Regions from separate parts of the Homo sapiens genome. Here region 1 is linked to region 2. The links come from fine-mapping of genetic effects on gene expression. A gene starts in region 2. The other region holds a variant in brackets. All regions are shown on one strand. Distances are between the middles of the regions. Region 1 has its middle 36 kb from the start of ATP6V1G1. Region 2 holds the start of WHRN (whirlin).

The links. PIP is the estimated chance that this variant, and not a neighbour inherited with it, causes the effect.
Region 1: its variant is fine-mapped to the expression of WHRN in fibroblasts (GTEx, PIP above 0.99).

What each region holds. Positions count from the first base shown.
Region 1 is chr9:114,550,486-114,553,390 of GRCh38, forward strand. No RefSeq gene overlaps it. Among named protein-coding and RNA genes, the nearest start is that of ATP6V1G1, 36 kb to the right of the region's middle. The variant G/A (reference allele first, on the strand shown) is at 1,614.
Region 2 is chr9:114,503,920-114,506,772 of GRCh38, forward strand. WHRN (whirlin) reads right to left here and starts at 1,554. Exons shown (of 12, transcript NM_015404.4): 1 at 265-1,554. The coding sequence starts at 882. RefSeq lists enhancers at 43-933, 934-1,824 and a silencer at 1,349-1,648.

The DNA.
Region 1 (2,905 bases), 47 kb after region 2:
TCTTTTGAGGTGGGGGCTGCCTCCTGGAATGGGCATCTCCACTGTGGCCAGGGGGCAACTGGGAAAGAGGTGGTCAGCAGCACCTTGACCTTGAGTGGGCCCAGATCTTAGATCTCCAGCCCCTGCTACTTTATTTCTCCTTCTCCCTCTTCTACAGAGATGGGGTCTCACTATGTTGTCCAGGCTAGAGTGCAGTGGCTATTCACAGGCACAATCTCTGCTGCTTTAGAATGTCCTGGAGAGCTTTCTGAAAGTCCAAGTTCCAGTCTCTATCCCTGCAAGACTCTGAATCAGTAGGTCTGGGGAAAGCAATTCTGATTTTACAAAGCTCCACATTTCTTTTTAAAAAAATATCGATGGGGTCTCACTATGTTGCCCAGGCTGGTCTCAAACTCCTAGGCTCAAGCAATCCTCCTGCCTCAGCCTCCCAAAGTGCTGGGACTACAGGTGTGAGCCTGGCCAAAGCTCTTCACTTCTAAAGGGCAGCCATGCTGCAGAATCCCATCAGCATGAAATGTCCAGAGGCCAGTGTCCTTCCTTTTCCAAGGGGCCCTCTCGTTTGTCCCCCAAGGCACCTCTCCTCCTAGTCTCTAAGGCCCCTCACTGGGACCCTTCCCCTCCATGGCTTGCCTAGGGTTACCTTTGTGGAGTCAGAGGTTGTTAGGGAGGAATATGTAGAACCACTGACCTAGTGCAACCCCTTAACTTTCTATTAAGGAAACCAACGGAGGACCAGGGAGGCCAAATGAGTTTCCCAAGATCACATAACAAATCCAGGGCTTACCGACCAGGGTGCACACCTTGGGAGCTGGAAAACTGTCCCGGGCCTGCTCTCACACAACAATGTGTGGGTTGTTTTTTGTTTGTTTGTTTGTTTTTGTATTTTTTAAATTTCATTAATTATTATTATTATTTTTTTTTTTTGAGACAGGGTCTTGCTTTGTTGCCTGGGCTAGAGTGCAGTGGTCCAACCACACAGCTCACAGCAGCCTCAGCCTTCCAGGCTCAAGCAATCCCTCCCCCTTCAGCCTCCCAAGTAGCTGGGATAATGGGCACAGGCCACCAAGTCCGGCTAATTAAAAAAAAAAAATTTTTTTTTGTAGAGATGGGGCAGAGGAGGGGGTCTCCCTGTGTTTCCCAGGCTGGTCTCAAACTCCTGGCCTCAAGCGATCCTCCCACCTTGGCCTCCCAAAGTACTGGGATTACAGGCGTAAGCCACTGCACCCAGCCTCACACACTCTGAATTATGTGGGGTGGGGTCCTAACTAACTCACTGAGCCTCCCAAGCCAAACTCAACCGCAGCTATTCTCCATCCCAAAAGTGGGAAGGAGCTGCCTATTGAGGGAGAGGTGGGCCTTCTTCCCATTCTCCATCTTCACCTACAAGCTATCCACTATGCAGGGGCTGCTTGGAGTTTTAACACTGATCCAGTAGCTCACCTGGCTCTTGCCTAAGTAAATTACCTTTCTCCCTTGGGGTTGGGGAGGTGTGGGTCTGGGTGGTGGGCACTGGCTTTACCTCCAGCTCAGCTCCTTCTCTTTGGTCCCGCCTCCCAGGGTTTTATGTGTCCATATAACCACTGACTCAGGGTCAGCTTTTTCCAGTCTAGTGC[G/A]TCAGCACAAGTGAGTGATAGAGCCTGAAGGCCATTACTCAGGGGAGGATGGTGGTGAGTCATCACGAGAGACTCCTTCCCTAGTCTGGCCACTCTGCTCCAAGCTGTGCTGGGAGACAGAGAATAATAACACCTTTTGGACTGGCCTTTTAAAAATAGAAACAATGGAGTCTGTGGCTTTAGGAGGAGAGGTCCTGGGAGTCAGAAGCTCAGTCCTGCTAGCTTGTCATTCCTTGGAGGATGCTGGCTACTACTTTGCCCACCGGTAATTGAGGGTGTTGCCCTTGGCCATTTGGGGTGGGCTTTCTGAGTCTTTTAGAGGTTGCAGAATCTTACATGTGCTATAAACCAAGGACACACCCTACCCAAAATTTATATACACATTCATGCAAAATGTGTCATGCAATCTCAGGGTTTCATGGAACCCGCTGACACCCAGTCATGGGCTCCTGGCAATGAATTCCTGATCTCTGGGCTCTATTTGTCTAATAATTCTATGAAATATGTTTCTTCCAAATTCTATACTCCCCACACCCTCCATAAAATCATTTTTTAAAACATTTTTTTGTCTTCATTTATTTAAGAAACATTTATTGAGTGCTACCCACTCCTGTGGAAAAGTCCAGTATTGCTGGGAGAGAGAAAAGAGGAAAGGCCTCCACCTGGGGTGTCTGCAAGAAGGGCACGGACATTGGAGGTGCAGATGCACTGAAGAACTGATGGGCAAGCAAGATAGATGGTCAAGGTTGGCACTCAGAGGGGTGACCGTTACCCGCCCCTCCACCCCTTTCCCCGGCTTGTTGTAAGGGCAAGATCCTTCCCTCAACTCCAGAAATGAGTCATCATGTGTCTATGCCAGCCCTGGCAATCCCATTCCCCTTTTTGAGTGTTTCCAACCCCAGTTTTGGACAAAGAGACCTAAGGGAAGTCAGTGTGCGACCCTCAATTCCTAGAAAAAAGACAGAGCCTCAGAAAGAAAAGGCTTTTGGGCTGGATTACAGGTGGCTCACACCTTTAATCCCAGCACTTTGGGAGGCCAAGGCAGGTGGATCACTTGAAGTCAGGAGTTCGAGGCTAGCCTGGCCAATGTGGTGAAACCCCATCTCTATTAAAAAAAAAAAAAAAAAAGAAAGAAGAAAAAGAAGAAAGAAAAGACTTTTGGACCATGCCTGTTCTTTCTGCTTTGGAAGGTTGGTAGCAGAGTTTATGCCTAATTGCTATCTTGTGACTTTGAGATGACAAGTGTGAACATGAAAAACTAACAGCTTAGGCGGAGCCAAAAGATAGGAAGA
Region 2 (2,853 bases):
TTGCTCAAGTATTTGTTACTATCACCTGCACTAGCTTTTAAGCCTCACAAAGGCAAGGGCCATGTCTGTGCAGAACTACGTTCCCAGTGCCTGAGAGCTATTTGCTCTGTAAGCTATACATTCCTGTTTTAAAGTATTAAAAAAAAAAAAAAAGCCCAGAAAGGCCAAGTGATTCATCTAAGGACACACAGCATGGAGTTACTGAAAAAGCTGTGCCACTCTGTCCATACTCTGCCCCAGACTCTCTCCAAACCACAGCCTTACCTTGACGGCCTCCGCGTGGGTCACCCGGGCCAGGGATTTGTCGTTGACGCGCAGAATCTGGTCCCCGACCCGCAGTCCTTCCTTCTCAGCTAGAGAGCCTGGTTCCACCAGAGACACGTAGATGCCCACGCCGTGCTCCGAGCCCCCACGGATGCTGAAGCCCAAGCCCTCGTGGGCCTTGGCACGCCGCAAACTCACCAGGCGCACCTCCCCTGGCCCCGCGCTGTCGGGGCCGCCCCAGGCGGGCTGCCTGTAGGGGGTGGTGGCGGGCAGGTAGAGGCCCTCGGCCGTGTATTGGTCGAAGAGCAGCTGGTCGGAGCGCGGGATGACCAGACGAAGCATGGGCAGCAGGCGCCGCTTGACCGGACTGTCCAGCAGCACGCGCAGGGTGCGCACCAGGTCGAAGACGTTGCGGCGCGCGTGGTAAGCGTTCAGGCAGTGGGTGAACTGCTCCCGCTCCGCCTCGCTCAGCAGCGCGGTCAGCGCTTGGTGCAGCTGGCGCACGTTGGCAGACAGTAACCGCAGCCCCGCGCCCCCGCCGCCGCCCGCCCCGGCCGCCGAGCCCAGCGAGCCGGTGGAGGACGAGCTCACCGACAGGCCGTCCAGCGGCGCGTTCATCTCCACGCCGAGGCCCGGCCGGGCTCTGAGCGCGCGGGGTGTGGGCGGTGCCGCTGTCCTCGCGGGTACTGGCGCGACAGCTGGATCCCCGGGAGCGCGGAGACGACGGCTGGAGCCTGGGTTTGGGGAGCACGGGTACAGTGGCTGGATCCTAGGGGGTCGCGGAGACCGCTGCTAGAGTCCCGGAGGCGCGAAGACGGCGGGGGTCGCGAACCTGGAATCCGGGGGACGCGGAGACGTCGGCGGGTTCCTGAGAGACACAAGAGTTGGCTGCTGGAGCCCGGAGGTGGCGGAGACTGCTGCTGGAGTCCGGGGGGCGCGGGGTCAGCAGCTACATTCTGGAGGGCACGGAGACGACGGGTGGCTGGAGTTTGGGGGCGCCGCAAAGCTGACCTGACTGCCCCGTCACACCATGCCCGGGGCTCCCCCAGCCGGGCGCCCGTTCCTCTAGGGCTGGGGGACCCCAAAGTCAGAAGTTGGGGCGGAGGGCGCTCTAGTCCCAGAGCACTCCGGGGAGTGGCAGCCGGTGAAGCGGCGCGGGCGTCCGACAAGGGGTGCGGGGCATGTCCGGGGCAGCCCCGGGATGCAGCCGCCCGGGGAGCCTCCGCGCCTCTGCGCCGCCCGGCCGCAAGCCCGGACTTTGCGAACTGTTGAGCCACCCGGGCCGAGTCTTCCAGCGAGTTCCGACGCCGTCTCGTTGCCAGCCCGGCCCGGGCCCCGCCCCCTCGTCCCTCCTCCTGCCCGCCCCCTCCCCACGGGCTCCTCAGGAAATGACGTCCCGCCCGGTGCGCCTGGCCGTTGCCTGGAGACGGGGTGAAACAGTCCAGCCCCAGGGAAGAAAGGGGTGAACGCGGCGGTAGGGGTGGGAGGAGCCCCCGCGTCCCCTACCCCGCCGGCAGAGCCGGGAGCGGGGCTCAGAAACAGCGCTCTTCGGCGGTCGCAGCGAGTGCCGACACCAGGATCGCTTTGGAGTAATTAGCCGGCTAGCTAATTCACAATTCGGGGGGAAATCGTCAAGTTTTTTGTTTGTTTGATTTTTGCTTCCAAAATACTGGGCACTTCAGTCTCGGTTTTCTTCCTTACAATGTGGCGCTCCCCTCCTGCACGCGCCCTGACATGACAAATTCCAGGGTTTATGTGGACGGTCGTTGGCCACCTACTGTGTGCGAGAGACGAATACAAGCATAGACTGCTGTCTGCCGGAGTCAACTCCGTGGCAGGGATGGATCAGGCTGGACCCCTTCCCAGTCTCCATTGCAAGGGAAAAGCCACTTTCAGAAATATTATATAAAGTGTACACCCCACGCTCGCGCACACACGTACAAATGAGCGCATATAAAACTGGTGAAATCTGAGTAAGGTGGGTGGATTTTATCAATGTCAATGTCCTGGTTGCCATCGTGTCAACATCGGGGGAAACTGGGTGAAGGGTACATGGCATGTCTATGTATTATTTCTTAGAACTGCATTTGGATCTACAATCTCAAAATAGAAATTAAAAATATACATATTTGAAGTGGCTTGGAGAAAAATCTCTTCTATGCTCTCCCATCCCTAGGCAAAATGGGAAGATACACCCAGGTGTGCCCTGGAGTCGGTCGTCACCCACCCAATCCCCCAAATAAGATTTAAGTAAAATCCTGTGCTTTTATTCTAATGGGGAGCTTCATAGTGCTACACACACACACACACACATACACACACACACCCTACCTCACACACATCCCTTCCAACCTGAGCTGCCTCTCCTAAGCTACTCTTCTATGTATTTTTCGTAAAAGTCTTCCAGAATTTCCATTGCAGAGCCAGCTGACATCTATCCAGGGTAGGGCAAGATGGAGGATTACCTGGAGGATTTGGTTTGTGGTGGACCCAGAAGGATAGATCATTCATTTATTTATTTATTTATTTATTTATTTATTTATTTATTTATTTGGTCGCTTTTCATTCAACGTTTTTGAAGCATCTGCT